Homo sapiens: one gene and its partner. The protein of the gene in region 1 purifies or fractionates together with the protein of each later gene. This does not show direct contact. Each region holds a gene or a part of one and is shown in the gene's direction. Other genes may lie near its edges.

Region 1 (4,481 bases):
TGCAAAGGGGTAGCCTCTGATCCTTTTGTTACTTGGGTGTGGAGAGGTGGGGTTTTCCTTTTGATTCAGTTCTAGGAAGTCAGTGTGAATTGGCCTTCAGTGCCCTGCCTCCAGGCCCTGTTTTCCTGCCTCAGAACTTTAAAAGTTGAAAATCATAAGTAGAGGAAAGTATACACACATACACACACAGAGATGCATGCACATATAGATGAATATATATTGTATGTATGTGTATGTATATTTGCCAAAATGGAATTGAGCTGTGCAGTTCTTTGGTACTCTGTTAATCTGTTTTCCTTTTTCAATGATCTGTGATCTTTTCAATAATGTTGAATATTTTCCTGTTTTTAATGGCTGAATATCATCTGTTCTATGACTGGTCCATGATGTATTTAACCAAATTCTTCTTACGAACATTTAGATTGTTTCCATTTTCTATTATATTAAATAACACTGTGATGGACTTCCTTCCTTTAAATATTTAAAAATATTCGTGCTTGGCTGGGCACGGTGGCTCACGCCTATAGTCTCAGCACTTTGGGAGGCCAAGGCGGGCAGATCACCTGAGGTCAGGAGTTTAAGACCAGCCTGGCCAACATGGCGAAACTCCATCTCTACTAAAAATGCAAAAACTAGCTAGGCCTGGTAGTGGGTGCCTGTAATCCCAGATACTCGTCAGGATAAGGCAGGACGCTTGAACCTGGGAGGCGGAGGTTGCAGTGAGCCGAGATTGTACCACTGTACTCCAGCCTGGGCAACAGAGTGAGACTCTGGATCAAACAACAACAACAAAATTCATGGTTATTTCATCAGGATAAAGTCCTAAAAGTGTTTACTAATTCAAAAGTTTGGCAAACTTTTAGGACTTTTGAAACATAGTGCCAAAGTACATACTATAAATAGATACACTTCTTGGCAGCAGTTTTCCTTTATCCCAGGAGTAAAGAAAAATATAATAGCTTAAATTTTTTTAAAAAGCTTAACATTAAGTCTCAAAACTTTTAGGATTGAATAATCAAAACCTAAGAAGAATGTAGATTGTATTTTGTTCTTTCATTAATCTCTTGTTAATGACTTTTTACCATGTGACATTGTTTTATTATGGCCCTTATTAATGTTATTTTTCATTTCCCTTTACCCACACAATTAATTTTGAACAGCTCTGGAACAATTACTTCCATTTGGCAGTTGCATTTCTCACCCATGAGTCCCTTCAGCTTGAAACCTTCTCACAAGCCAAGCGCAACAAAATTGTTAAAAAGTAAGTGTCCTTTTAAAGTTAAGATCGGGAAGGGGCTTCTTCCATTTGTTTACATTGAGAGCAATATTTTAGGTATCACAGAAATTACTATTTAGTGGCTACCCATGTTGTTAGTGAGGTAAGTCTTCAACTAATTACTTAATAGGCCTCACATTCACCCAGGTTCAGCTCTCTTTTCTTAAGGCCCAACCATCTTCCCATCAGTCATCCCATGCTTTTTATCAAATCTGTACCTGGAGACGGACCTTGGCTGTCAGCTTGCCCATCCCCAAGAACAGCTGCGCCTCTGCTGGCAGCTTCCCCAAATTGCAGGCATAGTACCTCCTCATTCATAGCGCTTCACAAAGCACACTCCTTCAGCACAGTTGCTCCACCTCCCTGCCATTTCAGCAGAGAAAGCCAGGTCTCAGACATTGCATTAAAATGCCCTCCAGATTCCTGGTTTGGAATTCAAAATGGAATTATGTGCAGAAGTGATAAGAGATTTAGGGAAGCATTTCATTTCATTGAGAGACTGGAATCCAAAGACCATGTCGTTAAAAAATAACTTGAGGAATGTATTATTTGAAGACTTTGAAATTTTAGTTGTGTTCCCCTTGTTGGGATATCTGCGATATGTAGGAAAATTATTTAGTGTCCCTCTACTTCTGGTTCCTCCCTCAAAAACTGCCTACATATACAAAAACAGCAAAGTATTTTTTGCTCCCAAGGACCAATATTTATCCCTTTGTGGACAGTATCACTCCCATTGAGAGTGCATGGTGTAGAGCCTTCCAATGTGAATATTTTGAAAAACACGCTAGAATGGATGTATATTACCCCAATATCAGTCTATAAAGTATATAAGTATTTAGTCACCTGTTAGGCATTAGTCACAGTACTGTATGATCATACTTCATTCACCTTCCTTTTCATCAGTGTTTGCCGTGTTTTGTTTGGCTTTGTCTGTGCCTCACTCTTCTCCCTGAAGTGAGTTTGTTAATCTCATCTTCTCAGCTATTTTTCAGCGTTTCCATTTGGCTTTATTGCGGCACAAGGTCCCCCGGCCTCTGTGCGCCTCATTCCTTTTGGGGGCTCGTTTAGGTATGAACCTCATCTCTTAAGGTTGGGCCTTAAGAGTGACCAAGAGAGACACAGACTGTTTTTACTTTCCTTCTTATTGTGTTTATGCAATTCATTTCTACTGAAAATCCTCCTTCTAGTTTATGATCTTCTTCCTAGATATGGGGACATGAGAAAGGAAATCGGCTTTAGAATCCGGGACATGTGGTATAACCTGGGTGAGTGTCTAGCCTTGAACAGGCCTGATCACAACCTCTGAGTGATAAGCATCCCACGATAAAGTCTTTTTTTTATTTTAATCCAGATAACCCTGAGATGTATTTGTCTGTGTGTCTGGAAGTGAAAGTTGATTTGTGGGTTTCATTGACAATGAACTGTCTCTTACTCTGGCATCCACATGCTATCAGAATCTGAGTCACTCACTTCTGAATTGAGTTGTTTTAACCTTTTCTTTTCTTATGGAACTTGTGGAGGAAGATTTTAACACTTTACTTTCAGTGAAATAATTTTTTAATATCTTCATTCACTTTCATTTCAGGTCCCCACAAAATCAAATTCATCCCATCCATGGTGGGTCCCATTCTGGAGGTCACTCTGACCCCTGAAGTAGAGCTCCGGAAAGCCACAATCCCCATTTTCTTTGATATGATGCAGTGTGAGTTCAATTTCAGTGGAAATGGCAATTTCCATATGGTAAGAAGTGGCAGACCGCGTAATATTAGTAAATGGACATATAGTCAAATCATAACTCATTTCTTTCTATATAGAGAAGCAGTAACCTTAATAATGCAAGTCCATGTTGATCTGAAAGTTCACTTTACATTTCATTTTATAAAGCAATTAGAGATAGAGTCAGACAGTGCAACCCAGAGCCTGGAAAAGATTTTTTTGCTACATGTCTTTCCTAAGGCAACACCTGTCTGTAGAAAATTAAAGGAAGTTAACTTCATGCATTTTAATCCTAGCTGTTTCAGTATAGCCTAGAGAATAATGTAGTGAATTGAATTTAAAAACCTATCTATTATAGTACGGCTGAAAGCAGTGCAATGGATTAAGTTCTAATCCATTACTCTGTAGCTTTGAGAATGTCATTTTCCTGGTATGTCTTCTCTGTGCCTCTGTTTTCTTATCTACAAAGTGTATTAATATTGAAAGGACGATTTCGCATCTATGAACCTCTGCAAAAGCAATCTCACTGCAGAGACTTAGACATGAAACTGAAGTAAAATAGAAAAACAAGAATTATTATTCTATTTTTATATGAATAGTTGTAACAGAAAGCAATGTTTTGGATAATATGTTTTTAATCAAATGTAATGCAAAGGACAAAGTAACATGAGACTTTGTTAGAAGATTTTGATAGGGCCTTGGTGCACAGTTTATGAGTGACCCTCTGTGATCCTCCCTGTCTGTGCTGGAAACAGTTCACAACTCAGCGAATGGGTTGGCCAAGTCTAGAAAGTTGGCCATGTCTTCTTCTAAGGATGCAACATTATCCTGTGAAATTCTGCCTCTACTTTCAGTTTGAGAATGAGCTGATCACAAAGCTGGACCAGGAGGTAGAAGGGGGCAGAGGAGACGAACAATACAAGGTTCTTCTGGAAAAACTGTGAGTATTTCAGGAACGAAACCTGAAGTCAGTGGTGTCATTTAGTAATAGAGAAAAACAGGGGTCCTGTTTCACCAATAGAGCAATTGAGTAGTCTCAGAGTCACTAGGGCCACCCCCACTGTGGTCTTCAGTATGGTTATGGGGTGTATACTGTCCACAGCTGACATTGTTTATCTCGTGGGAGTCAAATGCTGGTATTTTCCTGGCCAGCCTGGCCCTAGAGAACACAGCAGATGGAGGCAAGGAGGAGGTGCAGAGTGGTGGCATTTTGCCCAGTGTTTGAATTTTTGAACTTCAACAAAAGTATTAGCACTTCTAATTATAACTGCAAAGTAACAATTTAAAGGAAAAAATATTTCAAGGTCTGCTGTGTATGTAAAAAATACCTTAGGACCCATAAAGGACATATAACCAAAGCAGTTCTGTCTCCAGCCAGGTTGGTCTTTTTCCTGCCCTGTCATCCACCCCATCCAACACATCTGTACCTCTGTCTGGGCTCCCATTATCACCACTGTCCCCTCTTCCCCCACCACCACACTCACCTATA
Region 2 (5,002 bases), on another chromosome or scaffold:
ATATAGTACAATGATAAACCTCACAATGGCGACTGCAAACACTGAAAATTCTGGAAGTGCTTTTCCAATTGTAAGAGAAAGATTACTTTTTTTTTTCTTTTTGAGATGGAGTCTTTCTCTGTCGCCCAGACTGGAGTGCAGTGGTGCGATCTCGGCTCACCGCAAGCTCTGCCTCCTGGGTTCACGCCATTCTCCTGCCTCAGCCTCCTGAGTAGCTGGGACTAAAGGTGCCCACCACCACACCAGGCTAATTTTTTTGTATTTTTAGTAGAGACGGGGTTTCACCATGTTAGCCAGAATGGTCTCAATCTCCTGACCTCGTGATCTGCCTGCCTCAGCCTCCCAAAATGCTGGGATTACAGGCGTGAGCCACAGCGCCAGGCCTTTTTTTTGTTTTTGTTTCTTTCTGAGATGGAGTCTCGCTCTGTCACCCAGGCTGGAGTGCCATGGTGCGATCTCAGCTCACCGCAACCTCTGCCTCCCAGGTTCAAGCTACTCTCCTGCCTCAGTGTCCTGAATAGCTGGGATTACAGGCGTGCGCCACCACACCCAGCTAATTTTTGTATTTTTAGTAGAAACGAGGTTTCATCATGTTGGCCAGGCTTGTCTTGAACTCCCGACCTTGTCATCTGCCCATTTTGGCCTCCCAAAGTGCTGGGATTACAGGCGTGACCCACCGTGCGGAAAGATTACATTTTAACTGGGTTGAGTGGGAGGGTTTATATATGGAAAGAACTTTTGCCAGGACACAAGACCTGGTCCGGTGAGAGCTGGGCAACTGTGAATGAGTCTCTTCCCTCTGCTTTTCAACTCCTCACCTATAAAATAGGGATGGTCCTTCTTGTCTACTTTATAGAAGTGCTTGTGGGGTACGGGATTGTGAGAAGTTTTATGAAAACGTGCACCCATGAAATGTTGCTTGAGGAACACTTATTTGTTTCCTGGTCTTCTCCCATTGGATTGTGAGCATCTCAGGGGCACCAAGTCTGATCCTGTGTCCAGGACCTAGCAGTTACCTGGCTCAGTGACTGGCTGTCGAACTAAACTATTGCTCTAATGTAATCACTTTGTATTACAAATCTTTGTAGATCAGTCATCTACGTCGGGGTTACCTAGAGAACTCTGACTAAAGGAAATCCATTGCATTTAGACACTATTACTCACAGTTTGTAGTGGTATCTCCAAATTTCAACACATTTTCCCTTTCCCACGTACATTATGCATTTGTGGGAAGTTCTTTTTTTTTTTTTTTTTTGCGTTCATTGATTTACAACATCTATATCTACATGGATGGCGTGGCTTCTTCATTTTCCTTTGTGAGTGCCTGCAAATCATCTTAATCTGATTTGCTAAGGTATCTGCTTGTTTTCTCATTAGACTGGGAAATGGAGAGGAAAAAGAAAAAAAAAGGCCGGGCGCGGTGGCTCACGCCTGTAATCCCAGCACTTTGGGAGGCCGAGGCCGGCACATCTCGAGATCAAGAGATCGAGACCATCCTGGCCAACATGGTGAAACCCCGTCTCTACTAAAAATACAAAAATTAGCTGGGCGTGGTGGCGCGCGCCTGTAGTCCCAGCTACTCGGGAGGCTGAGGCAGGAGAATTGCTTCAAGGAGGCGGAGGTTGCAGTGAGCCGAGATCGCGAGCCTGGCGGCAGAGCGAGACTCCGTCGCAAAAAAAAAGCGTCTGAAATGCTGTTTTACTGGCTCCGGTAGCGACGTACAGCGAAAGCCAAGGTCACTTCAAGTTTGTAATTGGTTACAATGTCTGTCAGTCACGTTGCCGGAAACCCTGTCCAATTATCCTGCTTGTACTGTGCCCTCCCTTTCCGATTGGTTTTGGGACCGGTTTAAGCTGGAAGGGTAGTCATTGGTTCGCCGCTCTGTCTCGGCCTGAGCCCGCCCCCGCTCGGTTGCCGTGGTTGCGGGCCCTGCCCGCCCGCCAGCTCGCTGACAGCACGACTCAGGGCGGAGGGAAGTAGGTCCGTTGGTCGGTCGGGAACGAGGCTCAGGCGGCCAGGCCCGCGCGGAGCCGTTGCCATGGCAGCCGCCGCCGGGGACGCGGACGACGAGCCGCGCTCAGGCCACTCGAGCTCGGAGGGCGAGTGCGCGGTGGCGCCGGAGCCGCTGACTGACGCTGAGGGCCTCTTCTCCTTCGCTGACTTCGGGTCTGCGCTGGGCGGCGGCGGCGCGGGCCTCTCGGGCCGGGCGTCCGGCGGGGCCCAGTCGCCGCTGCGCTACTTGCACGTCCTGTGGCAGCAGGATGCGGAGCCGCGCGACGAGCTGCGCTGCAAGATACCCGCTGGCCGGCTGAGGCGCGCTGCCAGGCCCCACCGGCGGCTCGGGCCCACGGGCAAGGAGGTGCACGGTGAGCGGCGCGAGCGGCGCGGGGGCCCGGGGCGGGGCAGCCCGGGCGAGGGGCGGGGCCTCAGAGGACCAGTGGCCGCGCTTTGGTCGCCCCCGACCCTCAGCCGGGGTCCCCCGACGTCTGCGCTGAGGGCCACACTGACCCTTGAGTCTCCTTTCAGTAACGATGGTGATGATGGTTTTTTTAGAAAGTCTTCCTGCTCTGAGCCAGTCACCCCAGTCTTCTCTCACTGGGTAATTTCTGAATGGAAACTTCCCATGACTCGGAACGCTTATTGGTGAATAATAAAATGAGGTACTGGGGAACACTTTTATTATCATGGAGAGGGGAGGCCAGAGCCTGCAGCCAAGTCGTACCAGCTTGTTTAAATGCACGGACTTGGACTCCTTTACCACAGTTAGACCTTAGGGCAAATGATAGACCCTTTCAACCTTAGTTTTCTTTTTAAATTTTTTTATTTTTATTTATTTATTATTATTATCTTTTTGGAGACGGAGTCTCGCTCTGTTGCCCAGGCTGGAGTGCAGTGGCGCCATCTTGGTTCACTGCAACCTCCGCCCCCCGGGTTCAAGCGATTCTCCTGCCTCAGCCTCCCGAGTAGCTGGGGTTACAGGCGCCCACTACCAAGCCCGGCTAATTATTGTAATTTTAGTAAAGATGGGGTTTCACCATGTTTGCCAGGCTGGTCTCGAACTTCTGATCTCAGGTGATCCACCCACCTCGGCCTCCCAAAGTACTGGCATAACAGGCATGAGCCACTGGCCCGGCCTCAGCCCTAGTTTTCTCATCTGTAAAATGGGATGAGTTAAGTAAGGTAATGGATGTTTAGCTGTTATGCTGCCTTTGCTGTGCCCCAAACACTGCTGATACATGATCATCTGTCCTCACAAGAACTCTTTGAGACATAGAAATTGTTCCCACTTTACTGAAGAGGAAACTGAGGCTCAGAGAAATTGTCTTATTCCAGGTCACATAGCAAGTGGCTGTTGCTGGTATTAGAATCCGGGTCAGCCCGACTCAAACTTCTCCTCTGGTATATCTACCATATTGTCTTCTACAATGCATGGGTGACATGGAAACCCAGGCACTGAGAGATTAAGAATGGGGACTTTGGGGATTTCTTCCAGGACTGGCTATGACTCTAGCCATATTTTAGTGATGTCACGAAGATGAAATAAGAATTTGGAAGCGTTGTATTGACCATAAAGTGCTGTATGAAAGCAAGGAATTGTCATGTATCTGAATTGCAATTTTTGACCATATCTCCGATGACAAAGACATTGCTTTCCATTAGCCATTGGAGGGGGAAAATCTGCTTAGGAAATACCAAATTTAGGCAAATCATTTGGGAACGACCTGCTTTGAAGGAGAATATAAGATTATCTGTGTAACCAGCTCACAAAGAGCTTCTGTGTAAATCATTTGCAATAACTCGGGGCTGGCAGAACAACTCAGCCTTGTTTTGCAGATGATAGACCTGAGGCCCAGCTGGGTTAACTAGCTTGCTCAAGGTCACCCTGTGACTACAAGTGATAGAGAGGAAATCTGGCTCCAAAAGTCTTGGAGGATTTGCAGGAGGATGTGGCCTTTGTACTAGCTCCGCCTCATTTCAAGTTTCTCCTTGTTCCCAGGGCACTGTCTTTCTTTTCTTTTTTTGAGACGAGAGTCTCGCTTTACCACCCAGGCTGCAGTGCAGGTGGTGCAATCTCGGCTCACTGCCTCAGCCTCCCAAGTAGCTGGGACTACAGGCCCGCACCACCACACCCAGCTAGTTTTTGTATTTTTAGTAGAGATGGGGTTTTACCATGTTAGATTGATTTAAGTTAGAACTTAACCTAAGATTGAGAAATATTTTTTCTTTCTTTTTTTTTGAGATGGAGTGTTGCTCTGCCACCCAGGCTGGAGTGCCATGGTGTGATTTTGGGCTCAAGTGATTCTCGTGTCTCAGCCTCCCAAGTAGCTGGGATTACAGGCATGCACCACCACACCCGGCTAATTTTTGTGTTTTTATTTTATTTATTTATTTATTTATTTATTTATTTATTTATTTATTTATTTATTTTGAGACAGAGTCTTGCTCTATTGCCCAGGCTGGAGTGCAGTGGCGCGATCTTGGCTCACTGCAACCTCCGGCTCTCAAGTTCAAGTGATTCTCCTGCCTTAGCCTCCTGAGTAGTTGGGATAACAGGCATGCACCACCATGCCTGGCTAATTTTTGTATTTTTAGTAGAGAAGGGATTTCACCTTATTGGCCAGGCTGGTCTCAAACTCCTGACCTCGTGATCCACCCACCTTGGCCTCTCAAAGTGTTGGGATTACAGGCGTGAGCCACTGTGCCCGGCCTATGTTTTTTGTGTGTGTGTGTGTGTGTGTGTGTGTTTGTGTGAGACAGAGTCTCACTCTGTTGCCCGAGCTGGAGTACAGTGGCACAGTCTTGGCTCACTGCAACCTCTGCCTCCTGGGCTTAAGCGATTCTCCTGCCTGAGCCTCCCAAGTAGCTGGGATTGTAGGCGTGCACCCCCATGCCCAACTAATTTTTTGTATTTTAGTATAGACAAGGTTTCACCATGTTGCCCAGGGTGGTTTCAAACTCCAGAGCACAGGCAATCTGCCCACCTCAGCTTTCCAACGTTCTG

The links. Proteins that work in one complex are often made in the same cells at the same time.
Region 2: the proteins of DOCK5 (region 1) and ANKRD54 purify together in Homo sapiens (affinity purification with mass spectrometry; 3 studies listed by BioGRID and IntAct, with this or other methods). This does not show direct contact.

The regions. Positions count from the first base shown.
Region 1 is NC_000008.11:25,365,710-25,370,190, forward strand, and holds part of DOCK5 (dedicator of cytokinesis protein 5), read left to right. Parts: intron 1-1,160; coding exon 1,161-1,261; intron 1,262-2,482; coding exon 2,483-2,541; intron 2,542-2,861; coding exon 2,862-3,016; intron 3,017-3,846; coding exon 3,847-3,932; intron 3,933-4,481. UniProt on the Homo sapiens protein: Guanine nucleotide exchange factor (GEF) for Rho and Rac. GEF proteins activate small GTPases by exchanging bound GDP for free GTP. Along with DOCK1, mediates CRK/CRKL regulation of epithelial and endothelial cell spreading and migration on type IV collagen.
Region 2 is NC_000022.11:37,841,275-37,846,276, reverse strand, and holds the start of ANKRD54 (ankyrin repeat domain-containing protein 54), read left to right. Parts: upstream 1-1,942; 5' UTR 1,943-2,038; coding exon 2,039-2,366; intron 2,367-2,428; exon of another isoform or gene 2,429-2,660; intron 2,661-5,002. UniProt on the Homo sapiens protein: Plays an important role in regulating intracellular signaling events associated with erythroid terminal differentiation.